Homo sapiens: one gene and its partners. The protein of the gene in region 3 purifies or fractionates together with the protein of the main gene of each other region. This does not show direct contact. Each region holds a gene or a part of one and is shown on either strand. Other genes may lie near its edges. The genes, in order: RNF19B, RLIM, DNAJB2, CTSA, RFWD3, TRO and LACC1.

The links.
Region 1: the proteins of DNAJB2 (region 3) and RNF19B purify together in Homo sapiens (affinity purification with mass spectrometry; 3 studies listed by BioGRID and IntAct, with this or other methods). This does not show direct contact.
Region 2: the proteins of DNAJB2 (region 3) and RLIM purify together in Homo sapiens (co-immunoprecipitation; 3 studies listed by BioGRID and IntAct, with this or other methods). This does not show direct contact.
Region 4: the proteins of DNAJB2 (region 3) and CTSA purify together in Homo sapiens (affinity purification with mass spectrometry; 4 studies listed by BioGRID and IntAct, with this or other methods). This does not show direct contact.
Region 5: the proteins of DNAJB2 (region 3) and RFWD3 purify together in Homo sapiens (affinity purification with mass spectrometry; 3 studies listed by BioGRID and IntAct, with this or other methods). This does not show direct contact.
Region 6: the proteins of DNAJB2 (region 3) and TRO purify together in Homo sapiens (affinity purification with mass spectrometry; 3 studies listed by BioGRID and IntAct, with this or other methods). This does not show direct contact.
Region 7: the proteins of DNAJB2 (region 3) and LACC1 purify together in Homo sapiens (affinity purification with mass spectrometry; 3 studies listed by BioGRID and IntAct, with this or other methods). This does not show direct contact.

The regions. Positions count from the first base shown.
Region 1 is NC_000001.11:32,940,145-32,944,713, reverse strand, and holds part of RNF19B (E3 ubiquitin-protein ligase RNF19B), read left to right. Parts: intron 1-554; coding exon 555-695; intron 696-2,254; coding exon 2,255-2,462; intron 2,463-4,569.
Region 2 is NC_000023.11:74,607,857-74,612,425, forward strand, and holds part of RLIM (E3 ubiquitin-protein ligase RLIM), read right to left. Parts: intron 1-4,569. UniProt on the Homo sapiens protein: E3 ubiquitin-protein ligase.
Region 3 is NC_000002.12:219,282,336-219,285,862, reverse strand, and holds part of DNAJB2 (dnaJ homolog subfamily B member 2), read right to left. Parts: intron 3,027-3,527; coding exon 2,934-3,026; intron 2,731-2,933; coding exon 2,628-2,730; intron 2,445-2,627; coding exon 2,374-2,444; intron 1,232-2,373; coding exon 876-1,231; 3' UTR 1-875. UniProt on the Homo sapiens protein: Functions as a co-chaperone, regulating the substrate binding and activating the ATPase activity of chaperones of the HSP70/heat shock protein 70 family. In parallel, also contributes to the ubiquitin-dependent proteasomal degradation of misfolded proteins.
Region 4 is NC_000020.11:45,896,017-45,899,578, reverse strand, and holds the end of CTSA (lysosomal protective protein isoform b preproprotein), read right to left. Parts: intron 2,615-3,562; coding exon 2,539-2,614; intron 1,863-2,538; coding exon 1,773-1,862; intron 1,575-1,772; coding exon 1,470-1,574; intron 1,213-1,469; coding exon 1,129-1,212; 3' UTR 759-1,128; downstream 1-758. Other genes in the region: PLTP (phospholipid transfer protein isoform a precursor), read left to right, coding at 41-117, 516-638. UniProt on the Homo sapiens protein: Protective protein appears to be essential for both the activity of beta-galactosidase and neuraminidase, it associates with these enzymes and exerts a protective function necessary for their stability and activity.
Region 5 is NC_000016.10:74,659,642-74,664,210, forward strand, and holds part of RFWD3 (E3 ubiquitin-protein ligase RFWD3), read right to left. Parts: exon of another isoform or gene 2,315-4,569; intron 1,813-2,314; exon of another isoform or gene 1,811-1,812; 5' UTR 1,809-1,810; coding exon 1,291-1,808; intron 1-1,290. UniProt on the Homo sapiens protein: E3 ubiquitin-protein ligase required for the repair of DNA interstrand cross-links (ICL) in response to DNA damage. Plays a key role in RPA-mediated DNA damage signaling and repair.
Region 6 is NC_000023.11:54,923,594-54,928,162, reverse strand, and holds part of TRO (trophinin), read right to left. Parts: coding exon 4,395-4,569; intron 3,713-4,394; coding exon 3,608-3,712; intron 3,494-3,607; coding exon 3,430-3,493; intron 3,175-3,429; coding exon 3,095-3,174; intron 2,572-3,094; coding exon 2,480-2,571; intron 1,754-2,479; coding exon 1,674-1,753; intron 1,581-1,673; coding exon 1,538-1,580; intron 1,121-1,537; coding exon 1,058-1,120; intron 859-1,057; exon of another isoform or gene 728-858; intron 497-727; coding exon 382-496; intron 1-381. UniProt on the Homo sapiens protein: Could be involved with bystin and tastin in a cell adhesion molecule complex that mediates an initial attachment of the blastocyst to uterine epithelial cells at the time of the embryo implantation. Directly responsible for homophilic cell adhesion.
Region 7 is NC_000013.11:43,882,380-43,886,948, reverse strand, and holds part of LACC1 (purine nucleoside phosphorylase LACC1), read right to left. Parts: intron 3,179-4,569; coding exon 3,013-3,178; intron 2,031-3,012; coding exon of another isoform or gene 1,981-2,030; exon of another isoform or gene 159-1,980; intron 1-158. UniProt on the Homo sapiens protein: Purine nucleoside enzyme that catalyzes the phosphorolysis of adenosine, guanosine and inosine nucleosides, yielding D-ribose 1-phosphate and the respective free bases, adenine, guanine and hypoxanthine.

The DNA of each region.
Region 1 (4,569 bases), on a different chromosome or scaffold from region 3:
CCGTCTCAAAAAAAAAAAAGAAAGGTGCAGTAATTTTCCCAAGGTCACTTAGCTGGGACATGAATCAAGTTAATCTGCCTTCAGATCCTGTTCTCTTAACAGCTAAGCCATTCTACCTCACACAGCAGTAAGATTTTGGAATTAACATCCTGAGGAGATCCTAAACTCCAAGCAGTAGTCACTTATTTAATATTTGATTCTTGATTGGCTCTTGATTGGGTTAGCATTTCAGCAGTGATTAGAAGAGGGGAAAATGAAAGCAACATATATTTACTGTGCAAAACACAGTACATAGCATTCTCATTTGATTATTGACAACCCTGGGAAGATAGGTCCAAGGTTATACAGCTAGTAAATGGAGCCAAGAATCTAATCCAGACCTTTCTGATTTCTAGCCTGGTCATCATTCTGTTACACCAGGCCACCTTTTTGGGATAGCCACTTTCTGTCTTCCTTTCTTTATAAAGTGGTTTGTCCATGCCCAGACTGGGAAGAAGAATTCAGGGCACTTGCAACCTAATAGCCAGCTGACATGTTTCCTTCTCTTCCCCCAGGTATTGGTGTCCCCATTATGCTGGCATATGTTTATGGGGTTGTGCCCATTTCTCTTTGTCGTGGAGGCGGCTGTGGAGTTAGCACAGCCAACGGAAAAGGAGTGAAAATTGAATTTGATGAAGATGATGGTCCAATCACAGGTAAAAAGCAGGATGTTTATTTCCATTTGAATTTATGATATACAAGATAAAAATCAGTAAAATTCAGCGCATTTTACAGGGAGATTGTCATTGGATTACTTTGGATAATGAGCTTTGTAGGGGGTAAAGTATTTTTAGCTTTTCATTTCTTTGTTCCAAAGTTATTAGGTTAATTCCCCTGGTACTTGCCTCTGTGTGGCAGGTACAAACTAGTAGGAATCCAAGTAACTCCAAGTATGCTGGTAGTAGTAGTGATTATAATAACATCTTTATATCTGCACAGTACTTGATAATTTTCAGAGTATTTTACACAATTATCTCACTTGCTTTTTACAACAAACAGCTCTCTGACGAGGGAGGATGGAGCTGTTATCCCCATTTAAATGGGAATTTCTTTTTTTTTTTTTGAGACGGAGTCTCTGTCACCCAGGCTGGAGTACGATGTCGCGATCTCGGTTCACTGCAACCTCCGCCTCCCAGGTTCAAGTGATTCTCCTGCCTCAGCCTCCTGAGTAGCTGGGACTACAGCAACGTGCCACCACGCCTGGCTAATTTTTTTTTTTTAGTATAGACGGGGTTTGGTGTTTCACCGTGTTAGCCAGGAAGATCTCGATCTCCTCACCCCATGATCCGCCCACCTTGGCCTCCCAAAGTGCTGGGATTACAGGTGTGAGCCACCACATCTGGCCTAAATGGGAATTTCTTTAAGCTTTCATCTTACTATCTATTAAGAGCTTCACAGAGCTGAGACTAGGGCAAGTCTTCTGACTTTTACTTTAATGTGGTTTCTACTCGTAGTAAGTAACGTAGGGCACAAGTAACGTAGAAAACCCCAAAGGTTTTTCTAGCTTCCTTTTTTCTTTTCTTTTTTTTTTTTTGAGACGGAGTCTTGCTCTGTTGCCCAGGCTGGAGTGCAGTGGCATGGTCCTGGCTCACTGCAGGCTCCGGCTCCTGGGTTCGCGTCATTCTCCTGCCTCAGCCTCCCGAGTAGCTGGGACTACAGGCACCCGCCACCACGCCCGGCTAAATTTTTTGTATTTTTAGTAGAGATGGGGTTTCACCGTGTTAGCCAGGATGGTCTCCATCTCCTGACCTCGTGATCCGCCCGCCTCGGCCTCCCAAAGTGCTGGAAGTACAGGCGTGAGCCACCGCGCCCGGCCGGTTTTTCTAGCTTTCTACTAGAAGCTTCCTATTAAAATCAGCACATGACCCAAACATATTTTTTAAATCTTCACGTTTGGTTACATGGAAGCAACAGTGTAGTGGAAAGAATAGTGGCCTTGGAATCAGAGTTATAGTTTCATGTAACTACCATGGCCTTGGACAAGTCATTTAGTTTTAAATTTTAGTTTTCTCATCTAAAATTGAGGCTATTAATGCCTAGTTATTTGGAGGATTAAATATGAACATATGTTAAAACACCTGATATGTGGCGACTGCACACAGTACCTGTTCATTAAGTAAATACATTAGTTCTCTGAAAAGTCATTGCAGGAAAATGCCTACTGACTGTTTTGATGCTCTGCTGTCTTGAATTGGATGTTTGGTTCTATCCCCAGTGGCAGATGCCTGGAGAGCCCTCAAGAATCCCAGCATTGGGGAAAGCAGCATTGAAGGCCTGACTAGTGTATTGAGCACTAGTGGAAGCCCTACAGATGGACTTAGTGTTATGCAAGGTCCTTACAGCGAAACGGCCAGCTTTGCAGCCCTCTCAGGGGGCACGCTGAGTGGCGGCATTCTCTCCAGTGGCAAGGGAAAATATAGCAGGTAAACAAATAGATAATTTCTGACAGAAATGGTTAGAATTATAAGAAGTAACACATTGAGCCATTTCTCTGTGCCAGGCTTGTGCCACGTATCATCTTATTTTGATTTAATTGTCAATGGTTTTGTTTTGTTTTGTTTTTACTTTTTTATTTTTAAAGACAGAGTCTCACTCTGTGGCTCAGGCTGGAGTGCCATGGCGTGATCTCGGCTCACTGCAAGCTCCGCCTCCTGGGTTCAAGCGATTCTCCTGCCTCAGCCTACTGAGTAGCTGGGATTACAGGCACCCGCCACCACGCCCAGCTAATTTTTTGTATTTTTAGTAGAGATGGAGTTTCACCATGTTAGCTAGGATGGTCTCAATCTCCTGACCTCGTGATCCGCCCGCCTTGGCCTCCCAAACCGTTGGGATTACAGGCATGAGTCACTGCGACAGGCCTTTTTTTTTTTACTTTTACAAATAGGAAACAAGCTTAGAAAAAAAGGTTACGTCAGTTATGCAAAGTTCATTGTTCTTTCCATTGCACCATAGCTGCCTCTATATAAAGAATAATCCTGACTTGAGATTCCCCCTTGACTGCCTGAGGCTGCCTGCTTCAGGAAGGGAGAGTAGGCATTTTTATAGAATTCGTAAAATGCTCTCCGTTAGGCTTGTCATTGGCTTTCAGTAGCATTTATGCTGTATCATGGCTTATTTATTTTATTTTATTTTTTTGAGACGGAGTCTTGCTCTGTCGCCCAGGCTGGAGTGCAATGGTGCAATCTTGGCTCGCTGCAGCCTCCACCTCCTGGGTTCTAGTGATTGTCCTGCCTCAGCCTCCCAAGAGGCTGGGACTACAGGCGTGCACCACCATGCCTGGCTAATTTTTGTATTTTCAGTAGAGACAGGGTTTCATGTTGGCCAGGCTGGTCTCAAGCTCCTGACCTTGTGATCCACCCGCCTCAGCCTCCCAAAGTGCTGGGATTACAAGCATGAACCACCACACCCAGCCCATCATGGTTTATTGATAGTGGGCTTTGGGGATTTTTTTTTGTTTTTTTTCTCACTGTGTCATCCAGGCTGGAATGCAGTGGCACAATCATGGCTCACTGCAGCCTCAACTTCCTGGACTCAGGCAATCCTACCACCTCAGCCTCCTGAGTAGCTAGGACTACAAGTGCACACACCACACCCAGCTAACATTTTAAATTTTTTGTAGAGATGGGGTCTTGCTCGGTTACCCAGGCTGGTCTTAAACTCCTGGCCTGAAGCCATCCTCCCAACTTGGCTCCCAACGTGCTAGGATTATAGGCATGAACCATTGCCCCCAGCTGGTTTAGTGATACTGCAATCCTTATTACCTTTCTATTTCCATTTGCTAGATAAGGAAAATCAATTCTATGTACTTGTGTTGAAAATATGTAAAGCTTTGTAACTAAAAAGATTGTGACTTGCTTGGTCATTTCACTAGTTAGGCAGACCAGAGTGTATATTTTCAGAGGAGCATAACATGTTGCCTGAGAAGCAGTTGAATGCAACGGAGAAGAAAGGCCTAGGGAGGGGTAAAGGTAGAACAAAGCAGGATAGGAAGGTAGAGGAGATGGTTGCCTTCAGCTATCCAAAGGACCTTCAACTGTGAAAAGGATTAGACTTCTATGCCTCATACCAAAAGGTAGATTAAGATGACTTGGCAGAAGCTAAAGGGAAACTAATTTTGGTTCAGTATAGAGAATATAGGGAAAAGCAACATGAAAGCCCAAAGAGGAAAAAGGCTACTTTAGTAGATACTGAGCTGCCTATCCCTGGAAATGTTTACAATGAGACCAGATGGCTATTTGGCTATAAGAAGGATTCAAGCAACAGATGGCAGGTGGACTGGATCTCCCACCTGAGTGCCTGTCAATCACTTGGGAGCCTCTTAAAAATAGACTTCAGGGACCCATCCCAGAATGAGTAGCTTAGAATTTCCTGGAGTGGCACCTAGGGGGTGATCCGTGTTTTGCAAAAGCTCCCCAGGTAATTCTAGCACAGCCGTTGCATGAACCAGCATCTGACAACCACCTAAGTAGGAGCCCTTTCTGAAAGACTCTTCCAACTCAGAGTGATTCTGTGGCAGACCTGAAACTAGAA
Region 2 (4,569 bases), on a different chromosome or scaffold from region 3:
ACTTTATTCAGTTTTTTAAAAGTTAAATCACAAAGAACTGCTGAATTTAAGGCCAGAAAACAAAAAGTACCATCATATCATTACGTATGTAGGCACCAAAAGTGTTGGGGATTCTTCATATATAGAATGTTTAATTAAAATGTTATGGTATTTGTAACAGAAAAATATTTGCTAACAACCAGGTATCTTTTTTTATTCTACACATGGGTAGCAGGGTGAAACTCAGCTCTGTGAAAGGAAAAAAGAGATACTGAAATCCAGTCTTGGTTGTAACTTGGTTATGTGGATTTGGCCAATTCATTTAACCTCTTGTGCCAGAGAAGTCTCCATCAATATTAGAGTATTGGATTAAACCATCTGCAAGGTACTTTCCAGTTCTATGAATCTGTAACTGTAAATAAGATATAACCTACACCACATTACGATATTAAGAAATATTAAGTTTAGGAAACAGCACAAATAACTAGGACATAAGCTTATAAGCTCTGCTTTTCTCACTACCATTTCACTCAATGTACTTCTATCTCCACTCACGCAGTTATCTTTTTGAAAAGAAATATAAAGCATTCCTAAAAAAAAAAAAAAAAAAGAACAGGCAGGGTTAATGTCTCACTGACTTTCCTTATTGCATGATACCTCTCACCAACTAAAAAATTTGTTGATAATTTCCAAGAGTGGCCTATCAGAAAATGCTACCAAGGTATCCCCCACTGCTCATGCTACCATAACAATAAGAGATTATAAAATATCTGAATGGCAGTTAGCTTAGCCTCCACTTACATTCTTCTATCTTTACCAGTTGAAAAGGACAGCAGAGAAAAACTAAAAGGACTCAGGAATGTTCCTCATGTACGCACCGACTTGCAGCTCAAACAACTTTTACTAAAACGCTCTAAAACAGTTAAAACTGAAAGAGTGTTAAGAACTTCAGTAAATCAAAGGACTGAAGACCATGCCAAATGCGGTTGATCTACAGGATCAAGTTAGTTAAAAAAGGAAACCATTATGACATTTCATCTCAGTCAAATACTTTAATCTAGACAGTGAATTTAATCTTCAATTACCCGTTTTATGTTCTTTTATTATCAAGCTATGCCACTAAATTATAATTTGGTCTTATCCATAAACTCGTTTTGACTTGCTTCTCTCATTATTCCTAAGAAGTCAAAAAGAAAATGACTCAAAAACCCAAGGAGTGCATGTGTTTAAGTTACTAAGGTAAAAATCACTGATAACTGACAATGTTGGTGTTCATCAGTAACTAAGGCACTATTTTAAGGACCTAAGATTTTTCCATCAAAAATCAGGTTTTTAAAGATTGAAGCCAATTTTTAAAATTAAAATCACTTAGCCGGGTGCGGTGGCTCACGCCTGTAATCCCAGCACTTTGGGAGGCCGAGACGGGCAGATCACAAGGTCAAGAGATCAAGACCATCCTGGCTAACACAGTGAAACCCCGTCTCTACTAAAAATAGAAAAAAATTAGCCAGGCGTAGTGGTGGGCGCCTGTAGTCCCAGCTACTCGGGAGGCTGAAGCAGGAGAATGGCGTGAACCCGGGAGGCAGAGCTTGCAGTGAGCCGAGATCGCGCCACTGCACTCCAGCCTGGGCGACAGAGCGAGACTCCGTTTCAAAAAAAAAAAAAAAAAAAAAAAAAAAAAATTAAAATCACTTAACTAAAAAAGAAAGTATTATCTATACCAATCAGTTATTTGAGGAAGTAATTTTGTATTTAAGACCAACCATGCTGACAATTGTCCTTCCTGAACTAGTATACCTACATAAAAATAACATGAAGAGGGTGACAATATATCTTTGGTTTGTCCAGAAGAGTAAGGGTTTACACTTGTACTGAAGTAATCAGTAATATGGCTCTCCCTTTCACTCTCAAAAGTGTCCCAGTTTAGATAATTCATATGGTCTCCTTAGTTATAATCAGCACTAAAGGGATCATTGGTCAATAAAAAACAAAAGTTGTAGTTAACACTTTTCCTCCTATAGTCAAGGGGAGATCAGAAGGGACCTTTTGTCATTCCAGAAAAAAATTTTAAACATCAAACACAAATACTTCCTTTCTCCCAGGAAGTAACATGTTCATCATCATGGAAACGCCATTAGACTCTCAAATGTTATAAAAGCAAACCAACCTGTAGTTGCAAAATTATTGCAAGAAATCCACCAATCTATGTAATGCACCAAGTGCTCTCTGCCTACAGATTATTTGTCTCACAGATATGTAGGTGCTACTGTGACTAATGAAATTAAACTCTTGGATTGGTGGCCAGGCGCGGTGGCTCAGGCCTGTAATCCCTGTACTTTGGGAGGCCAAGGCGGGCGGATCACCTGAGGTCAGGGGTTCAAGACCAGCTTGGCCAACATGGTGAAACTCCATCTCTAGTAAAAATACAAAAGTTAGCCAGGCGTGGTGGCACGTGCCTGTAATCCCAGCTACTCGGGAGGCTGAGGCAGGAGAACCGCTTGAACCCAGGAGGCGGAGGTTGCAGTGAGCCAAGATCGTGCCACCGCACTCCAGCCTGGGCGACAGAGCAAAACTCGTCCTGCCCTCCTAACCAAAAAACAAACAAACAAACAAACAAACAAACAAAAAAAACCAAAAAAAAAAAACCCTTGTGTTGGAACATTAAAATATAAGAAAATCTAGAGCAAAAATACCAACTATATATGTCAGGAGAAAAACCACAAGTTCATAAATATATTCCCCCAATTGAGGTATATTTAAAAAATACCTCAATTGGCCAGTCGCGGTGGCTCACGTCTGTAATCCCAGCACTTTGGGAGGCCAAGGTGGGCAGATCACAAGGTCAGGAGTTCGAGACCAGCCTGGCCAATATGGTGAAACCCCATCTTTACTAAAAATACAAAAATTAGCCAGGCGTGGTGGAGAGCGCCTGTACTCCCAGCTACTTGGGAGGCTGAGGTAAGAGAATTGCTTGAAACCAGGAGGTGGAGGTTGCAGTGAGCCGAGAGTGCACCACTGCATTCCAGCCTGGGCGACAGAGTGAGACTCCGTCTCAAAAAAATAAAAAAATAAAAAATAAATAAATAAAAATACCTCAATTGATAAAAAGAGAAATGAATTGCTGGATTATCTGGGAAACTTTCATGTTTGAGGCTGAGAAAAAAAAATGAAAGAAAAATAGATACAGAAGTGTTATTACTTTCTTATATTGGACATCAGAACTTCAATTTATTATGTAAACTAGATACTTTCTGAAATCAATGGGCCATAGGTTTTAGAAATCTTTGTGTTAAAGAAAAACCTGTCCAGTTCTAGGCAGTGGCACAAAATTCTAGGCCCTCATTGGTTTGGGTTTGACAGAAGACTTTTTATTCTCTAATTTGTCATCCACTCTATGGTAAATGAAGAGAACAGGAGGCTGGCTGGTGATTTGCTCTATTTCTAATCCACCATGGCCATGGAAAAATTAATGTACATATAATATAATTCCATAAATGCAGATGCCTCATTTGACCTACTACTATATTAAGGCTCACTACATGTTCACTAACCTCAAAGATATCCAACCAGCCTAGTATTTCCAGATCATTTAATTATTAAGCTATTTCTTAAAATCATTTCTGATTTTAAATTAAGTTTATCAAATGATATACAAGGAGCTATCCATTTAACATCTATCAATGAGCCCATCCAATTACAGGGCCTGTGAAATAGAACAATAAATATGTGTAAACATGCATAATAGCTGAAACAGGAACGTAACAGACGAAAAGGGGGGATTGCTGGATAACCTTTAAGTATTAACAAAAGTTTCTGATGCAACATAACCTACAGACTTTTTACTACAACCTTTCATTTTCATTGCATTTCCTATCTAATTAGACAGCAATCAAACCCAGAAGTATAACGTCAGACAGGCCTGGGATAAAATGAGGGCTCCACCACTTAAAGCTATTTAACTGAGGACAAATTATACTTAACCTCTTTGGGTTTTTGGTTTCCTCTATAAAAGTTAACATTCTCATGAGGCTCTGTTGTGAGAATTATAAAATAATGCATATAAAGCACATGGCCTAGCACCACAGGCCTTCAGCAGAAGTTGGTTATGAATTTAGGCTAAGTATCCATCCCAGTTTGTCGGGGACAATCAAGGTTTGCACCTGCTGTCCAGGAATTATTAATGTTCCTTTTGTTCTTAAAAGTGTCTTGGTTAGGCAATAAATTATGTGGTTACCCTAATGATGATGATAATAATAATGAAAGGAGTCAATATCAATTAAAAGTATCATGTATCAATTATGAATTTTTGAATCTTAAAGGAAAAAAATCAACCACCACACACAAAGTAACGTAAAATTATACTCTCGTAAGCTATTCTGATATTTCATTTAGTTATCCAATGAACATTTAAATGTTATTTTACTTATACTCATGCCATTCCAACAATGATATAAGACAACAAATTTTTTGTTGTTGTTGTTCTATACAGGTATTGGTAAACTTCAGACATTATTTTAAAGAGTCAAATTCACAGATAAAGCACTGGTGAGTTCCAGGTATCCAGAAACATTACCCTTTTAATTCCCAGTG
Region 3 (3,527 bases):
GAAGCAGTATGGGTGCAGTCCCCTCCTAGGCCTCCCTCTGGGGTCCCCCGGTCCTATCCCACCTCTTCAGGGTGAGCCAGCCTCACCTCTGCCTAGTCCTGAGGGTGAGGGCAGGCTGAGGCAACGAGAGGGAGGAGGAGTGGGCTCCAGTTCTGAATCTGGACAGCTGAGAGGCTCCCGCCCCACCCGGCTAGCCTCCCCAGAAGATCTCACAGCCCTACCGGCCCCAGCATCTTCCTCGCCACATTGAGGCCTTCTCGGGGAAGGAAGGAAGAAGGGAGTCCTAGCCAGACGGCAGTGAAAGCAAGCGATGCGGCCCGCAGGGAGTTGCAGAGAGAATGGGAGGGAGGAGAAGCAACACCAGAAGAGAAGCAACAGAGACGGTCAGAGCGCAACATGGCACAGAAACCAGGGTTGGGGGTCTGCAGCTGGTCCAGGAGAGCAGGAGGCTCCACTCTGCCTGCACTGCTCTCCAGTGGAGCTGCCGGCTCCGGCTCAGACAACCCTAGGCCAAGTCCTCCTTCCTTGACACCATCAGCAACACAGGTGGCAGAGTACCAGGGCACAAAAGGCCCAGCCCAAACCACTAATGCCCCTTGGAGCTCCCCATCCAATAAATGCAACCTGGCTCCTCGGGCCCCTCCACTGCCCTGACACCCCCCACCCTGGGCTTCACCAGGGACCTATCAGCCCTGGGCTGAGCACAGCAAATCCCAAGTCCACACTGGGGTGTGGGGGGCCTGGGAGGGAAACTTGTGGAGGGAGCTTGGAGTTGGAAAGCAGTTCCTACAACTCAGGATACTCCCCTCTTCTCTTCCCACAGTGAGTCAGACCCCCCAGTCAAGATCTGGATCAGATCAGGTTGGGCCCGGTGTTCAGAGGATGAGGCAGCGAGAGGCCTTCTCCTCTGGGGATGGACTGCGTTTGGTTGCTTCACCCCTCGCACCCTCCTGGGTCCCCCCCAAGCCTGGATCTTGGTGCTGGGCCTTGGGCCGCCCCTGCCGTCGGTGCTGTGCCTCCCGCCCACCTGCGGGTTTCTTCCCAGCTGCCTCCATCTCTGACAGGCTGTAGGCCATGGCCAGCTGCAGGTCCTCATCCTCAGAGAGGTCGCTGTCCAAGGGGCATGAGGCAGGGGTCTGCTGGACCTGAGTGCCCCCAGACCTGGAAGTGACTGACGGCTGCTGCTCGCGACGGCTCAGCTCCAAGCCCAGTGCCAGGTCATCTGGGACACCTGCAAGAGTCACAGCCACCATGAGGCCCCAACCTGAGCCAGGGGTATTACTGCCAGGCTGCCTCACACAGTAACAACCCTGACCACTTAGAGTCTCTTATTTGGAATTGGCACACATGCATTTTGGCACCTAGGCTTGTGATTTTGAGCACAAGGAAGTATTCAGCTCTACCAGGTAGAAGCTCCTACCCTTAGGCAAGTCACTCAACATCCCTACCCCTCCCTTTCCTCATCTAGAAAGTGGGAATGATGGCCGGGCACAGTGGCTCATGCCTGTAATCCCAACACTTTGGGAGGCCGAGGTAGAAGGATCACTTGAGCCTAGAAGTTCGAGACTAGCCTAGGCAACATAGTGAGACCCCATCTCTACAAAATAGTTTAAAAATTAGCTGGGCATGGTAGCACACGCCTGTAGTCCCAGCTACACAGGGGGCTGAAGTGGGAGGACTGCTTGAGCCGAGGAGGTCGAGGCTGTAGTGAGCCATAATCGTGCTGGGCTGAGCACGACCCTGTTTCAAAAAAAGAAAAAAAAGAAAATGGGAATGATGATAGTGCCTTCATACTCAAATTGTTCCAATGATTAAATATGTCAGCCCATGTAAAGGGCTTGGTACGCAGTGCTGGGAGTCAGCAGGCGTGAAAGGTTAGCTGTGGTGACGGCCCTGCACAGCATGGTGTTGCAGGGGCAGTTCTGCTCCGGGAATCGTGCGTCCTGAGTTTGACTCCTGGCTCTACTCCTTACTTGGAAGGAAAGAGTCTTGGGCCTGGGCTACTTGGAAGTTAGGGTCATTTAACTATGCTGCAGCTCAGGCTCCCCAAATTAAAACTAAGTGGATACCATCTGCCCTGTGTACTCCCCCAGATGCTTGAAGAATACAGAGGATATCGTATATCTGGAAGTGCTTTAAAAATAGTAAAGTGCTTTGCAAATGTAAGGCACCCCACTCACAGTGACGGCGATGGCTTCGTGAGACTCCTTCACCCCCTTCCCGACATTGCCATCTCTGATCCTACCAGTCTGGCCTGTTGCCACTCCCTCCCAAGCCCTAAGTGAGTTCAGAGAGCAGCAGTTTGGGGAGGAGGCTGCTGAGGTTGGGGCTGGGGCTTCCTGCCAGGGGCTGGGTAGGGGAGCTGCTCCTCACCATTGATTGTGACTGACTTCAGCTGCCCATCCTCCTCCACTTCCACCCGCTCCTGCCCGTTCTCCATGATTCTGTGGGAGACAGCACAGTTCAGGCAACGAGCAGTGACAGAATCCTGCAGGCGCTGGTCCCAGTTCTGGCCACCGCAGTAGAGAGCGCAGACTGGGCCCTGCCCTCAAGGAGCCAACTTTCTATTTGAACACAGCTCCCCAGCAGACCTCTCACCCCTCTATGGCCCCAGAAGGAGCTCTCACCTGCGTGTGGTGATGCGGCGTCCTTGGACAAAGGTGGTAGATGTAGAAACAGAGCGAAAAGCACCAGCCCCAGGACTGAAGGAGAAAGATGAGGAGGAGAAATCTGGCATCGGGACAAGGGAGGAGGAGGAGAGGTGGTTAGAAGAAGACTGCGCTGCCTGTTGTGGTCACCGAGGCTCCAGGCCGCCTCGCAGGGCTGCTGGAGGCAGGGCTCCCAACACAGGAGACAGGCTTGGAAAAGCAACAAGCTCAAGCCAGGGGTTCCAGGAATCGGAGCTTGCAAACGTGGGAAGGGGCAGAACTTACCGGAGTGCCCAGGGAAGGAGGAAGAGAAGGTAAAGAAGGGGCCTGAGTGTCGGGAACCCCGGTTCTGAAGCTCTGAGAAGGGGCCCAGGTCATCTGCAACAAGTAAACAGATTAGCAGTCATCTGGTAATGACATTTCCCCTCAAAAGTGTGTGAGCCCAAGTCTGGAAGTATAAACCACTAAGCAACTGGGTAGGGTTTTTCTTTTCCGCTTTTTAGTTGGGCTTATTTATAAATTCCTTTTTAATGTTGAATTCGAAAACACTCACTGGTTAATTCTGTCCACAATAAAGAATAAAGGAAGGAAGGAGGGGGAAGAGGGATGGAGGACAGATGGCTCTTTCAGTACAGGCAAATCATCATGACGCGATGACAGGCAGACACAGCTAGGAGTCCAGCTCTGCCATGTGTTATGTGACTCTGGGCTATTAACTGTGCCTCAGTTTTCTCATCTGCAAATGGGGAGAAAATTGCCCACCTGTCAGGATTCACTAGAGACTTACGAAATGTAAAATATTTGGCACATATCTATCATTAAAAAATACCACTATCTGTTTTATAGGTAATAATAACAATATTGTCACAAGATGCTTTG
Region 4 (3,562 bases), on a different chromosome or scaffold from region 3:
CTGGGCGGGCCCAGACTGAGCGGGGTGCTCCCACCCACAGAGCGGACCTGGCGTGGGGTGCAGATCCCACTACCTGAGGGCATCAACTTTGTGCATGAGGTGGTGACGAACCATGCGGTGAGTGGGGGCAGGATGGGGAAGGAGGGAGGGCCTTCCCCTCTCTCTATAGCTCCCCAGTGCCCTCCATTACCTGACCCCAGCTCCCCCATTACCAGTCGCCCCTCCCATTTTAATCTTAGACTCCTAAAAGCCGTTGCACACACTGTGACTTCTTGGAGCACTCTTCTCCCATCCCAATACCTACTAATTGTTCAGGTCTTAGCTCAGAGGTCACCTCCTCCAAGAAGCCCTCCTTGACACCCATAGTCTACACTCCTACAGCCTCATTTTAACACCTTGACATGGAATTATCCATTAGATTGAGTTCCTGAAAGACAAACACTCTGTCTCTTGATCTCTAAACTCTGGCCTCAATAACTGAATGAATAAATGAGGCTCCCCTCTCCCCAACACAGGGATTCCTCACCATCGGGGCTGATCTCCACTTTGCCAAAGGGCTGCGAGAGGTGATTGAGAAGAACCGGCCTGCTGATGTCAGGGCGTCCACTGCCCCCACACCGTCCACAGCAGCTGTCTGAGCCCTCAATCCCCAAGCTGGCAGCTGTCATTCAGGACCCCAACCCCTCTCAGCCCCTCTTTTCCCACATTCATAGCCTGTAGTGCCCCCTCTAACCCCCAGTGCCACAGAGAAGACGGGATTTGAAGCTGTACCCAATTTAATTCCATAATCAATCTATCAATTACAGTCCGTCCACCACCTCCCTGTGGGCTGTCCTGAGCTCTGTTGGGTTCCTGGGATGGAATCAGTGCATCATAAAGGGCATTCTTTAAGCAGAGAAGGGGCCAGGCCACCCCATTCAGGAACTGCTGCGGGAATAAAGTGCTAACTTGCCCCCAGGCTGTCTATGGGAGACCCTGGGCCCAGTCTGGGATGTACAGGGCTCTGGGAAGGGGGCAGTCCTGGCGGCAGAACCCGGCCTGCAGGGGCACTTTGCTTAGAAGAGGACTCTCCTAGCGGGAGAGGCTGGGAGGGGCTGCATCAGGCCGTGGAGCTGGTTGCTGTGGTCATCAGTATGGCTGCTTGTTCAGGAAGCGGGAGAACATGGTGAAGGCAGCGAGGGGCTTGTCGGTGGGAACCATGTGGCCGGCGCCCTGAGGAGCAATGTTCGTGAGCTCCTGACCCCACCATTCCCTCCTCCCCATATAACTGCTCACTCGGGGGCAATTCCTTCATCCCAAACCCTTTATTCTTCCCAGAACCCTCCCCACCCCTCTCCAAAAAAACTTGCCCATACAGGGGCCAGATGGTGACCCATGACCCAGCCTAAAAGGCAGCCAGAGGGAAAGGACGGGTGGGTCCTGCTCCTTTGCCTCCGGCCCAGTTATCTCTCAGCAGGCCCAGTCCCTACCTTGATCGTGAGAAAGGCGATGTGGGAGAACTCCTTCACGAAGCCGGCAATCTGCTCCCCGCTGTCCCCGTACTTCACTAACCAGGGCCGGCGCTGCACCTCCATCTGCCCCACCAGGAAAGACATCAGCCTACAGCAGCTGCATCCTTGCTCACAGCTACCAGCAAGACCTTAGGGCTGGGAATTCCTCCACACTTGCCCTCTGTGGGCCAGAGCCAGGCAGCCAGCTGGCCACTCCCAGGCATACCCGCTCCCAATCCTCCACAGCAGCCCCTATCCCAGGGCCAGGAATCTCTACCTTACCTTCTGGTTGAGGGAATCCACAAACCACTCATCCCCCATGAAATTGCAGGCCATGTCTACATCTCCATTATATAATAGGATCTGGTATTTCTAAAGCAGGATGGGGTAAAAATGAGGGGTGTGGAACAAGCCCAGTCCCCAGCCCTTCCCTAGTTCAAGGCCTACCCCTCAGGAAATTCAAGGGGCCAAGCTAGATAACACGAACCAGGGAATTTTCATGTTTTCTAACGACTTACTGCATGTCCAGTATTCTACTAAATGTTTTATCTGTGAAGGTAGATATCATTATTATCCCCATTTTACAGATGGAGAACCTGAGGCTCATATTTAAGAAATTTGCCCAAGATTATGTGGCTAGTACAGGGACTTGCACCCAGGCCATGTGACTCCAGAGCCCATGCTATTAACCACTGTGCTGGACAGAACCTAGTCCTAACTTGGCCCTGCCAGTGCTTCCTATATCACCTTGTGCAAGGTCTCCTCCCACCCTGGACCTCTGCTGGCCCATTTTTGGCATGAATGAAGCTCTTCTCACCCTTAAGACTCCGTGGCTGATGCAGACCCCTAGGCCTCCTATAGCAGGACAGCATGGGTGGGGACAAACCCAGGTTCAAATTCTGACCCCACCAATCACAGGACCCTGGGCTTCGCCTTTCGGAGTTTCAGCTTCCCTTGTCCTGACAGGAAGTCTCAAGGGCCCCCAGCTTGCTGTGCTACTCTGGGGTCCTAAGGCTGCTGGTGATCCAGCTGTGCTCTCCCCACTCACCTGTGAGCTAAGCAGCTTCAGATACTGGGAGTTCATGCTTCGGTAGAGACGGCGGTACTGTAAGTTTACCAGAAAGCTGCCGGGAACATACGAGCAGGCCCCAGGAAGACCAGGTCGGGGCGAAAAGTAGTCAACAGATCAGACCTTCTCTCCTATCTCCAAGCTCCAACCCAGAAGGCAGACAGCTGGGTTCCACTCCCCTTTTTGGGGGGGGGCCACCTCTCTAGGACTGACTTGGATGTTGGGCTGGATGGGCTGGGATTCAGACAGCCTCAACTCACCACCATTTAGAAAGGTACAGGGATGCTGGGCGTGGTGGCTCACGCCTGTAATCCTAGCACTTTGGGAGACCGAGGTGAGTGGATCACGAGGTCAGGAGTTCGAGACCAGCCTGACCAACATGGTGAAACCCCGTCTCTACTAAAAAAAAAAATACAAAAATTAGCCAGGCGTGGTGGTGCGTGCCTGTAGTCCCAGCTACTCAGAAGGCTGAGGCAGGAGAATCACTTGAACCCGGGAGGCGGAGGTTGCAGTGAGCCAAGATCGCAGCACTGCACTCCAGCCTGAGTGACAGCAAGACTCCATCTCAAAAAAAAAAAGAAAAAGAAATGTACAAGGGACGCATTTTGGTTGTTACGAGGACTGGGATGCATCTGGCATTTAGTGTCTAGGGGCCAGCAGGTGTGGGAGTCACAACATACAACAGGGTAGAGTGTGAGCACTGACCAATCAAAATGGACCTGAGCAGCCCTGCTGGGCCCAGTGTTACCCTTTTACTTGGGGTTGTGGGGGGGGGTGGCCACAGGAGACTGGACATGGAAGTTAACAGTTTGTTATTGTTGTTTGAGATGGAGTTTCACTTTTGTTGCCCAGGCTGGAGTGCAGTAGCATGATCTCAGCTCACTGCAACCTCTGCCTCCTGGGTTCAAGCGATTCTCCTCCCTCAGCCTCCTGAATAGCTGGGATTACAGGTGCCCAACAGCACACCTGGCTAATTGTTGTATTTTTAGTAGAGATGGGGTTT
Region 5 (4,569 bases), on a different chromosome or scaffold from region 3:
CAACACAGAACTAGGCATCTGTCATCCTTGATGGGCACTACAGACACTGGAGCCACAGTCATGGCAAGCCCCAACATTAAAATCAGCAGGATCCATGAAAAAGAATGCTGAATCCAGATACAGAAGGCACAATTCCAATTCCAGCCTTATCACAACCAAATCACAAATTATCCCATCAGCTTCCTCATTTGTAAAACATGGGTAATAGATGACCTAGCTACCACTTTTTAGTATCATCTCAATATTTTCACAGTGTTAGAAAACATCGGCATGGTTGCGTATGCCTGTAGTCCCAGTTAATCATCAAGAGGCTGAGGTAGGAAGATCGCCTAAGCCTGGGGAGGTCGAGGCTGCAGTGAGCTGTGATTGCACCACTGCACTCCAGCCTGGGGAGCACAGTGAGACCCTGTCTCAAAAATAACAATAATAAAAACAAGAAGAAAGAGAAAACAAAGGGATTTCGTCGAAGCTTCCTCCATCTGCCTATGTAGAAAACAGGGCAGATCCAGGCTCCAATATCAGTGCTAACTCCTCTATTCTATAGTTATGAGACCCTGAACAAAGCCCTCTCTGAGCGGAGATCGCACCACTGCGCTCCAGCCTGGGCGACAGAGTGAGACTCCATCTCAAAACAAAACAAAACCAAAAACAGACAGGTTTAATTAGTTAGGTGTGGTGGCACGCGCCTGTAATGCCAGGTACTGGGGAAGCTGAGGCAGGAGAATCGCTTGAATCTGGGAGATGGAGGTTGCAGTGAGCAAAGATTGTGCCACGGGAATCCAGCCTGGACGACAGAGTGAGACGCTGTCTCAAAAACAAAAACAAAAAACCAAAAAACGGACAGGGTATAGGCAATTGTTATTCTTCATAATAACCCTGTCAAGACTTGACAGCTAAGCCCTTCAAGAGGCAAGTTCAAACCAAGACTATGAAAGAAAATTAATTAATTGTGCCCCCAGGTGGAATGCCAGTGAATAATGAATTTGGGTGAGTAGAGACTTGCAAGTGAAGAAAGAATTTTTGGTGTACAAGACACAATCTGAACAACAGCCAATCTCTACAGAGATTGCCAACAAACTACCACCTAGTTTTCAAGGCACAACAGTTTAACTTATCCCTTCATTACTTTGTGAAGTAAGGCAAGCACTTTTATTTCCACCTATGAGGAACTGGGGGTCAGAAGTTACCTGACTTGCCAAAAGTCACACTGTCAGTCCTTGAATGGCAGAGCCTCAGTTTCATAATTTCTAGTACAGCAATGATCACAGACTTATCCATATATTTATTTACCTGGCACTGTCTGTCCTCTGAGACCCTCCGGCTCTTGCCCTCCGTGAAGCAGATACCCTCCTTCTTGTTCTCATTGGCCCTACACTGTGGTTTGAAGATGAAGGTCTCAGGAATTCCAGCATGCCATGAAGTCTCTGCAGTCCGCTGATGAAGTTGGTCATTGAATGCAACGAAGATGCTGGGATGGTGTGATTACCATCAGATCCCTGCCTATGTTGTTCTGAAGTTCTTGGATTGATGTTCTCCACAGTGTCTTCTCCCAAGACCTCCACTTCTGTCAGGTCAACAGACAGTTGCGGAGCAGGCTGGAGCAGGGGTGGTGTCGCTTGGCTGCTGATCACCTCAGCAGGAGCTGGCTGGAGGATGGATGGTACCCCCTGGCTGCTGACCACATCAGCAGGAACAGGCTGGAGGAGGGCTGGTCCCCCTTGGCTGCTGGCCATGCCAGCAGGAGCTGGCTGTTGTTCGGCATGATTTAACTGCACCTGAACATCATATTCCATTGCTTCATGAGCCATCACTAGAGAAACAGTATTTGTAAAAAGTATTAATAAAATAGATAAAACATGCTATGTAGGTGACAGAATCATATTTAATCTTTCTGATTTTATGTTTAATATCATTCTTAGCAAGACTGAGAAGCTTCAAGAGAAGATTTTAACTACTTAAGTCAGAAGTGTTTGGTAATGGACTTTCCTCTCTATAACAAGCATTTATAACCAGTTTTCCGGTTTGCCCTTAGAAAACATGAAGTCCTGTGATCATAGTAGTATCTTCCAAAATAGAAAGATCTATAAACCAAGGAGATTAAACTACTGGGTCTAAAAGTAATCTCTCAGACACTTTGCAGTTCTCTCAAGCTGAATATGGACATTCACCAAAATCAAATGCATATAATGCAGTATCTAATTTTAGCAGGCAATATTAATCTTTCACAGCATCAACAGTTACAAGGGATAAATAGAGAAAGGACATTTTTTACACTTGCAAAATTAACTGTTACTAACTCAAAATGGAAACTTACCTAATGTTTCCAAAAAGGCTGAGCAAACTTTATCCTATCCCTTTCATTATTTTTGTTTTCCATCTCTAATTCCATCATGTTAGCGTATTCAACAAATATTTATTAAGCACCTATGTTCTTTTCATGTTTCCTATCTTTAATTCCATTGTATCAGTTTGAAAACTACCACCTAGTTTTTAAACTAAAAAAAAAAATTTTTTTTTGTTATATAGATGAAGGCTTCCTATGTTGCCCAAACTGGTCTTGAATGCCTGGCCTTACCTCCTCATGCATCAGGACAACAGGACTGAGCCACTGTGCCTCCCTACCACCTAGTTTTTAAAGTACATCAGTATAACTTATCCCCTTAATTACTTTGTGAAGTAAGGCACGTGCTTTTATTTTCATCTGACTTATGAGGAAATGGGGGTTCAACTAATAGTTATTAAGCACCTGTTATGCAGACAAGACACCCTAGAGGCAAAAACAGATAAGACCCCATGTATCAGAGTTTAGATTCTAGCAAGTAAGATGTCAATAAACAAATACATGAAAAAAATTATAGATTATGATGTTTGGGGTTGAGGAGACAAAGAGGACCAACTAAGACACAATTGTGAGGGAAGTACTCTTTTAAAGAGTGAAAATTGGGCTGAGGCATGAAGGATTAAAAGCAGCTGGCTATGCAAAGAGCCAAGAAGAGTCTCAGAAGGAAATCAGTGCATAGGTCCCTGATGAGCATGGGTTTCACTGATGAACAGGACACCATTATTAAAGGGCCTATGGGCCTTGGTAAGGAGTTTCTTCTATGTTAGGAATGCACTGTAGGGGTGCAAGAGCATAAGCTAGGTGACCAGTGTAGAGGCTATTGTGGGAGTCCAGACCAGAGGTCAGAGAGACCTAGGCAAGAGTGGTAGCAGTGGAGATGAAAACAAACAGACAGCTTTAAGAATCTTCAGAATGGTCATGCTTCTTTTTTTTTTTTTTTGAGATGGAGTCTCGCTCTGTTGCCCAGGCTGGAGTGCAGTGGCGCGATCTCGGCTCACTGCAAGCTCCGCCTCCCGGGTTCACGCCATTCTCCTGCCTCAGCCTCCCGAGTAGCTGGGATTACAGGTGCCTGCCACCACGCCTGGCTAATTTTTTGTATTTTTAGTACAGCCGGGGTTTCACTGTGTTAGCCAGGATGGTCTCGATCCCCTGACCTGGTGATCTGCCAGCCTCAGCCTCCCAAAGTGCTCGGATTATAGGCATGAGCCACCGCGCCCGGCCAATACTCATGTTTCTTAAAATCATCAAAGCAGATTAAACCACCTGAGGAACAGAATGACAGAAGAGGGCTGAAGACTAAAGTCAGAGACACTACTGTTAAAAGTACAACAGAGTAAAAGAAGCCAGTTAAGGAAGATTATAAAGTAGGAGGAAACATGGGAATGTGGTGTCTTGGAAAAACAATGTTTCAAGGAAGGAACAATTGAGTGTCAAGTGCTACTGGGGGGAAGAACGGCCGCTAGATTTGGCAACATGAGGATGACAGGTGACCTAAAAAAGCAGTTTCCCTGAAGTGGTGGGGTCAGAGGCCAGACTGGTGCAGGCTGAATAAATGGAAGGAATTCTAATAAACATAGTGGACGAAGTACATATATGTATCTTTCTCTCTCCACTCCAGTCATTCCTAAAACCCACGAACATGACCCCCACAACCTGAGACATTTTTTTAAGAAAGGATAAATTAACCAGGACGACACAAATGCAAACAGGGTATGATATGCAAACCAGTTTTTTAAGGCCATAAAGGAGAAACTGATGATTGATGACTGCTTAGCAGAGCCAAAAGATAAAACTCAAAGCCTGCAAAGGGCACAGTGGTTGGGGTGAGGTGTGTTATTGAGAAGCAAGCTGATTCCCACTAAAGGGACTGTAAAAACCAGGTACCACAAAAGGCAATATTGAAAGATGGCGCTAAAAGAGAAGGGCTGGTTAAAAGCCAGTAAAGCAGTTAGCTTGACTCCTACTCAAACACCAGCCAGCTAAAACAAAACACAGAACAAAGCCCTTCTCCCCCTATGCACGAGAAAACTGGAGGTTTGAACCACACAGGCTTACACTCAGGATGGAGAGTGGCACAGTACTGAAAATAAGTGGGAAAGAAAGTCTGCAAACTGAACAATGTGAGATACTTCAAGTTTTAAACATTTTTTGTATAGATGGGGTTTCCCACGTTGCCTAGGCTGGTCTTCAACTCCTCGGCTCAAGCAACCCTTCTGCCTCAGCCTCCC
Region 6 (4,569 bases), on a different chromosome or scaffold from region 3:
ACACACAAAGCCATGTGAGGACACAGCAAGAAGGCAGCCATCTGCAAGCCAGGAAGAGAGCCTTCAACAGGAACTGACCCTCGTGGACCCTGACCTAGGATTCTCGCCCTCAAGAACTATGAGAAAATAAATTTGTTTTTTAATCCACCCAGTCTATGGTATTTTGTTATGGCAGCCCATGCTGATTAATACAAAGTATGAAGAATGAATGAGATGATGTAAACTATATATCTAGCAGCACCCTGGGACATAAAGGAGGCTCCACATGTTTATATATGAGCTGCAGGCTGCTCTGTACCTGCCCATCCCTGTGCATTGCCTGCCCCAGCCAAGGGTATCCCATTGCCTTAATATGCCAAGCTCGGGCAGCTCTCCTCTTACCCTGCATGCAAACTTGAGGACTTTCATCTTGCTAGTCTCGTGGTAGGAGCGCAAGCCCCAGAAGAACTCATATTCAGGTGGTCTGCTGTTAGGGACCCTCTTGTACTCCAGGTACCTTGGAAAAAGGAAATGAAACTTGTTTCTAACCAAGCAACCCTGCTGTCTAAGCACTAGACACCAGGTGGCAACCTCCTCCAAACAAATACAAACAGCCCCTGGAGAGGGATTTCTAAGACCCTCCAGCCCCAGACTCACTACCAAACACAGTTTATGGTCTTGGCCTCCAATACTGAGCCATTTCCCACTGGCCCTGTGCAAAGCAGTCCCTTGGGCTTCTCCAGGGGAGACATGTATAGGGCATGATGTCACAGGAAGGCCAAAGTATCATGCCACCTGTGAGGAGTAAGCCCAGATTCCTGTTGGGTGTGTTGTAAACAGAGGAGCCATTCTTAAGGCCCTCTGCTCTGAGCGCACCCCACTGCAAGGGCCTTGTGTTGAGTCTGGCCCAGTCCTGGAAAGGTCTGCCCATGGGAATTTTAGACAGTATCAGTTCTAGGACACAGGATGCCCATCCCTCTAAAGCTAGTATAAGAAAGGCACTGACTAAGCACTTTCTGAACCAGATCAGTATACCCAGAACACTTCAGGGCCAGACAAAGCCCCAAACACCACTTACTTCTGCTTCACAAACTCGTCTGTGATGAGCTTCCTCACTTCCCCAAAGAGTGAATGCCTCACCCTGACAATGGGAAAAATAACCCATGAACACAGATCAGAACTGCCCAGATGAGGGCAGAGGCATTTCCCAACATGGAAGAGACCTCTCTAGCACATGGGGCAGTCTCAATGAAGTGAAGAAAGTAATGAGCACATGGCCACTAGAAGCAAGCAGTTAAGACCAGATGCCTCTTTGTCAGGGATCCCTGAAGGTCTATCTAACATCTCAGCTTAGAACAGACAGAGGACATTAAGGAGAGAGACAGCAGAGAGTTCAGGACCATTTGCCCGTCATCCACCCAGGTCAGAACCCTGGGCCCTCTACCCAGTCCAGCACCCCACCCGCTCCACCAGACCACCAGACTGATGCAATCCTAGGACCATCCTCTCTTGCCAAAGGACAACACGGACAGCAAGCGCTGAGAGAGCCCAGTCATACCCAGGGCGCAGCCCCAACTTGCGCAGCACCTCCCAGATGACAGCTGTGAGGGGAGGCAAGAGGAGACAGGGACAGAAATTGAACACATGGAATCCAGACCATGGCCGCCCATTCAGCTGCATGCCCAGCCACTCACCCTCACTGGCCTTGTTGCCATTCATAAAAATGACACTCAGAATCACCATGAGGAGACCCAGCTTGGGTGTGTCCTTGGTCCTAAGGGAATAACAGGACAGAAAGAAGGTTTATGTTTCAACAGGACAGAAAGAAGGTTTATGTTTCAGCAGCCATCCGCAAAAGATACACCAGCCAGCTCACCAGGCTAACCTCTCCCAGATTCCTCAGATACAGAATTCTGCCCAGTCTCTGCTTCCAGCTCTATGCCACCCTGGGCAAGGCACTTAGACCTTGCAAGCCTTGGTCTATTATTCAGTAAAATGGGAAAATCATATTCTCCCTTCCTCAGGTTGCCAAGAAGATGGAAGAATGGCTGTCAACCTGGTACAACACAAGCACTCAGTCAATGTGAGTCCCTTCTTTCTCTCCCAGAACCTTCAGCCCCACTGACACTCTTGCGCTTCATGCATACTGATCCAGCCACACCAGGAAGCCCTCCTTGAGAACCACTCTGTCAAAGCCAGGCCAGGCACTCCATCGGAAGAGGCAAGCAATGACAGGCCTGCTTTCCTGGGAAGCTTCTACAGAGACAGCAAACCTGACAGCAGGAATGTCCCACCCTAGGCTCCTATACCCTTCAGTCAATCATAATCAGGTGCCACTACTGTGAGCAGGGCTCCAACTATGTGCAGGTGCTGAGACAGGGCTTTTGAGACCCTGTTTTTCCTGACTCTCTAAGAGGATGGGGGAAGTAGGACAAAGAAGGGGTAGCAGCACAGATAAAAGCAGAAGCTTCCTTCCCACTCCAGCCCTTTCCCAGCTTACGTTCCCAGTATGCCTGCAGAGGATTCCTGAGTGCTGATGAGAATATACAAGCTACTTTGCTTATCAATTTCTTTCAGATTGACTCGAAACATCTGCCAAGTAAAAGAATAGCCTGTGAGATCACAAAATTCAGCTTAGGTATCAGTGAACTTTCCGGGCATCCTAAAACTCCCAGTGTACTTAGGGGGTCTGCATGTGTAAGAAGTCAGTGAGATAATGCACATAAAGCACATAGCCAAGTGCCTGGCACCCAGTAAACACACAGCAAATGTACTATTGTCATCAACATCATCTTTGTGATGAGCAGGAATCTAGGGAGACAGAAAATGGGGATACAAGGGAGAGGTGAGATCTGAAATACATGCAGAATATGTCCAACTATGAATAGAAGCTGAGACTAATTTGAGTGGCTTCTGTCCTAGCCATGTTTTCATCACTGACATGCTGTGTGACCCATGGCAAATCTACACCTCTCCCTAGGCCACTGTCTGCCCATTCACACAGTAATGGGGCTGGATTAGCATGTTTCTGTGATTCTCTCCAAAAGGGACATGTATGTCTTTGCTCGATTCAAAGCTTCCCCATTGCGCCCATCCGCCAGCACTGCCCCTTCACCTTCTCCAGAGTGTAGCTTGCTCGTTCAATGATTTCTGGGAAATATTCATCATATTCTTGGATGACATCCCTCAGCATGTCTGTAGAAAAGGAGAGGTGAGAGTAGCTGAGCTTAGCAGGGGCCACAGAGCTGCAGCCCTTTTGCCAGTCCTGTTGGGTCAGTGCAATCAGAGACCTGAAGTGAGTTAATGGGAGATGCCAGCCATGGCAGAGTGCAAGGAGGGCAGGTGTGGAGATATGACAGAACAAAGAGGCCATAAAGTGTTACTCCCAGACTATGGGAGGAGAGGGGAGTGGAGAGGAGAGCTCAAGGAGGAGGGTTGGTAGGACACTACCTGAGCGTTTGATGGGGATCTTTGTCTGGTCCTTAACCAACAGGTATTTCACCAACTTATTAGCCTGGGAGGAGAGGAATAGATGGAGAGATCTTAACATGCTTGCAGAAAACTTGGAAGGAGGCAGAGAAGAGGGCAAGTGAAGAAGAGAAGAGACTGGACAGCATTGGATTCTTACCCTTTCTTGTAAAATGGCCACATCTCGCGGTGGTGCAGGCCTCCGGCCCCATGGGATCCGCCTGTAATTACTGCCACTTCTCTCATCCCCATTCAGATGCTTGGACTTCATCATCAGAAAGAAGGAAGGTCCAGAGTCACCAGGTGAAAGAGATGGCTCTGTCTCCTCACCTTGCCTGCTCCAGACAGAAAGTCCCTCTAACCCCCTCCCTCAGCCTTGCTGTAGTGGAGCCTGATCCTGACCTTGCCATTGGCCACCCTGAGTCCTGAGCTTATCTTTCACTGTCTTCCAGGAAGGAGTTTCGTTCCTCTGCCAGGCCAGGAACAACTCAAGATAAGAGCCTAAGGGTCTTTCTCTTCCTCTGGCTACCACCAATTATGCTGGCTGGTACCTCTTGGACAAGTCACTTCATTTCTCTGAGACTCAGTTTTCTTAAGTGTAAAACTGGGACCTATGATCCCTTGTTGGTAAGAGTTACTTTCAAGACATTCAGACATACCCTGTGTAACTGTACCCAACACAAAGCCTGGCACGTGGTAACTACTATTTAAATACAAGTAGTATTACATACAGGTTGTAGCTGAGTGTATGGATGTCTTATTTCCTCACCAATCTGTGAACTGCTAGGGAGCAGAAACTATATCACCTTCTTCTCAGCATCTTCCACAGCCTATCTGAACACAGGGACTAGCTCAAAGTAAAACTTTTATAGAAGAAATGAACAAACTAGAAGGGTAGAAATGGAAAAGAAGCACAAAGTTAAGGATGGCAATGTCAGAGATCTCACCTTTCGGTTTCTTTTGCCCCGGGTCCTGGTTGTGGGCTCCAGGCTCAACTGAGCCAGATAGTCATCTGCCAGGGCCTGGACAGCAGCAGCAACCTGAGTCTCAAGGGCACTTACGTTGGTCTGAGCAGAGGCTATCTTGGCCTGGGCCCCTTGGTCAGCATTTGGAGTCTGGCTT
Region 7 (4,569 bases), on a different chromosome or scaffold from region 3:
CTCTCACTTGTAGTTCATCCACCTCCTTTCTATTTGATTTTTCTATGCCTATCTATATATACATATCTAGTTAAAAGATCTTTATTAAATTAGTCCCATAGAAGAATTTTATTCTTTTTGATATCTGATAAAAGTAGTATACAATGTAGCTAATTATATTATATTTTAAAGTTAATTTATTTTTATTCTTCCAACTTTTTAGGTTCGGGGTACATATATGCAGGTTTGTTACATGGGTAAATTGCATGTCACTGGGGTTTCGTGTACAAACGATTTCATCACCCAAGTAGTGGACATAGTACCGAACAGACAGTTCTTCAGTCGTCACCCTCCTCCCACCCACCACCCTTAAGTAAGCCCCCATGTCCATTGTCCCTTTTTTTGTGTCCATGTGTACTCAATGTGTAGCTCCCACTTAAAGGATACATATGGTATCTGATTTTCTGTTCCTGCATTAATTCATTTAGGATGGCTTCCAGCTGCATCTATGTTGCTGTAAGGATATGATTTCATTCTTTTTTATGGCTTTATAGTATTCCATTATGTATATGTACCATATTTTCTTTATCCAGTCCACCACTGATGGGCATCTAAGTTGATTCCATGTCTTCATTATTGTGAAAAGTGCTGTGATGAACATACGTGTGCATGTGTCTTTATGGCAGAATAATTTATATTCCTTTGGGTATATACCCAGTAATGGGATTGCTGGGTTGAATGGTAGTTCTAATTTTAAGTTCTTTGAGAAATATACAAACTGCTTTCCACAGTGGCTGAACTAATTTACATTCCCACTAGCAGTGTGTAAGCATTTCCTTTTCTCCACAATCTCACCAACATCTGTTGTTTTTTGACTTTTTTTATAACAGCCATTCTGACTGGTATGAAATGGTATCTCATTGTAGTTGTGATTTGCATTTCTCTAATGATTAGTAATATCAAGCGTTTTTTCATATGCTTGTTGACCACGTGTAAGTCTTCTTTTGAGAAGCGTTTGTTCATGTCCTTTGCCCATTTTTTAATGGGATTGATTGTTATTTGTTTGTTGATTTAAGTTCCTTATAGAGTCTCGGTGTTAGACCTTTTCAGCTGCATAGTTTGCAAATATTTTCTCCAATTCTGTAGGTTTTCTGTTTACTCTGTTGATAGTTTCTTTTGCTGTGCAGAAGCTCCTTAGTTTAATTGGGTCCCACTTGACTATTTTTGTTTTTGTTTGCTCTTGAAGTCTTCACCATGAAATCTTTGCCAAGGCCTATGCCTATGTCCAGAATGGCATTTCCTAGGTTTCCTCCTAGGGTTTTAATAGTTTTAGGCTATATGTTTAAGTCTTTAACCCATGTTGAGTTAGTTTTTGTATATGGTGAAAGGAAGGGATCTAGTATCAATTTCCTACATATGGCTAGCCAGTTATGCCAGCACCATTTATGGAACAGGGATTCCTTTCCTCATTGCTTGTTATTGTCGACTTTGTCAAAGATCAGATGGTTGTAGGTGTGTGGCTTTATTTCTAGGTTCTCTATCCTGTTCTATTGGCCTATGTGTCAGTTTTGGTACCAGTACCATGCTGTTTTGGTAACTGTAACTTTGGAGTACAGCTTGAAGGGAGGCAATATGACTCCTCCAGCTTTATTCTTTTTGCTTAGGATAGCTTTGGCTATTTGGGCTCTTTTTTGGTTCCATGTGAATTTTAAAATAGTTTTTTCTAAATCTGTGAAAAATGACATTGGTAGTTTGATAGGAGTAGCATTGAATCTATAAATTGCTTTGGGCAGTGTGGCCATTTTAACAATATTGATTCTTCCTATCCATGAGCATGGAATGTTTTTCCATTTGTTTATATTATCTCTGCTTTCTTTCAGCAGTGTTTTGTACTTCTCATTGTAGAGACCTTTAATCTCCTTGGTTAAGGTAACTGTATTCCTAGGTATTTTATTCTTTCAAAATTAACTTATTAATGACTTGAAATTCACATTTATAACTTCATTTTGACTGCTTGATCTTGGATATGTTTAAACTAAATGTTTTCGAACCTAAGAAGTAAAAAAATAATATCCTCTTTTTATATCCAGGAGCCAAGACTCAAATTTTAAATAACTTTTTGACAATGTCATGTAGTAAACCTGACTTCTACTCATTCAATCCCATTATTTCAGCTAGGTCAAAATAAAAATATGCTACTTTCTTTTTTACCTATGAGCTAAAAAGCAAAGTAGCCATAGATTTACAAGTAGAAGGAAATTTTAAAGATCATCCCTCATTTCACACAAAATCACAGCTATGGGGTAATCTAAAATACTATTTTAAAATACCTTCAGAAAACAAAATTCCATATCCTTAACACAATATACCTTCTAAAAATACTTCTTTGCTCTCAGAGAATAGTTACAGTTAAATACATTAAGTGATGTAAACTAAAAACAGTTTTCAAAACATCTTGCTTTTTCCTACCTCCCTAGCTTTACACATGCAGCTCCATCTGGGTGAACACTTCTCTGCAACATGCCTAACATTCCTATTTCCTATGGCCTGGATTTCAAGGATTCTCAACCAGAGGCAGTACCACTCCCCTAGGGAGTGTTTTGAAAAGCTTGGAGGGTTTCGTTGTTGTTTGATTGGTTGGTTGGTTGGTCTTGGTTATTACAGTAACTAGAGGTGCTACTGTCATTAAGGATTTCAGGGGCTAAAGACACTTAATCTGCAATGTGGGATTATCCTGCCCAAAATGTTAATAGCACCCTTGCTAAGGAACACTGTTACCCAGCCAAAACCAACAAATTCCTCAGGAATCAACCTAGGTGCCACCTCCTTTGGGAATTCTACTATAATTCATATAATTTGATGCAGATACTCCTCTTAGCTGTCCCTATAATAAAACTATGCCGCCTCTCCCATCATTACACTTACCACAGTGTAATGTAATTAACTGTTTGCCATGTCCATCAGAAAGAAATTACAATTTTTCCTGCACAACAAAATGAGTAAAATTCTAAATGTTTAATTAAGTATACTTACCAGCGTGAGCAACCCCACATGCTTTTTTGACTGGATCTGCAAAAACTATCGGTATACAGTCTGCACCAAGAGCTGCTATTGTGACTCCTCTCTGATTTGTGGTTATTCCATCATAAGAGTCAGGCTCCTTTCTTCCCATAATCCAGATGTCATTGGAATGATGAGTCTAATACCAAAAATGTGCAACAAAAATGTTTTGGAAATAGTATTTCTTATACCATAAGCTTTCTCGAAGGTACTCATTGTAGTATAAAATTATATAACCAGTTTAAGATTACTAGCATTCATTAAATATATCACTTTTATATATGGGAAAACACAAAATTTACTTATAATTTAACTATTTAAGATTTTAGATTATAATCTCTGATAGTTTATGCAAAGAAAAGCAGAGTTTAACATTATAAAATTCAATATAGTGAATAATGAACATCTTTCCATAAAGATAGGTATATCATTTCTTATAGCACTTTCTACAAAATGAAAATTTTTCTTGTAAAGGAAAGTTAATTAACAAATCAATGATACTTTTACTTTTCCAAGACTCAAGTAAAGCTAGAATTCTGTAAGGAACAAGACATTATCTCATCAACTATGACCCTAGTTCCTCCTGGAGTAGATTTATAAAATAATGGCCTTTCTCTACCACCATTCAGTTCCCTTTCTTCTAAATCAAAAAGAGCAGTGGTAGTATACTCTCTGAGAATTAACTGTACTTTTAGAATTGAGGACTCCAGATGAAATATACAGTAGGCTCTTGAATAATGTCATTTTATTCCACATCATTTCATTATAATGTTAATGAAAAAAATTGATTACCCACCCGGTCACTGACTGTGTGAGGTTTGCACCTTCTCCTCACGTCCACATGGGTTTTCTCTGGGTACTCCAGCTTCCTCCCACATCCCAAAGAAGTGCATGTTAGATGAATTGGGGTGTCTACATGGTCCCAGCATGAGTACGTGTGTGTGTGTGTAAGGGCACCCTGCAATGGAATGGTGTCCTGTCGAGGGTGGGTTGTGGCCTTGCATCCTGATCTGCCAGAATAGACTCCAGCTACCTAAAGCCCTGAACCGAAATAATTTGGTAGTTATCTTATTTGTCTTTCTTACTGTTTTGTAAATATATGTCTAGCTCACATTTATTTCAATGTTTAATACTAGGAATGTGTTGGTCTTTATTTAGAAGTTTGGTGATGTTTTTGTGACAAGAAATATGCCTTAGAAACTTTATTCTTATTTATATCAATTAGCCTATGGTAAAATTGGTTTTATTATGTCGTTTCACTTAAAGTCACAATTTCTAAGAACCTATCAACATTAAAGGATGACTTACTATATGTGTGTGTGCATATATATATATATATATATATCTGCACGTGTGTGTGTGTGTGTATAAAATAGAACTTATCTTTAGGCTATGGTGTATAAATCTAAGAAAGACAACCACAGCATTATTCTAAAACTTTAGATAAAAAAGCAGATACAAAAGTTAAATAGCTTAAAGTCCATGTAGTTACTAGCAAAGTAAAAAATATACTTTAGATCTTTCAAAATA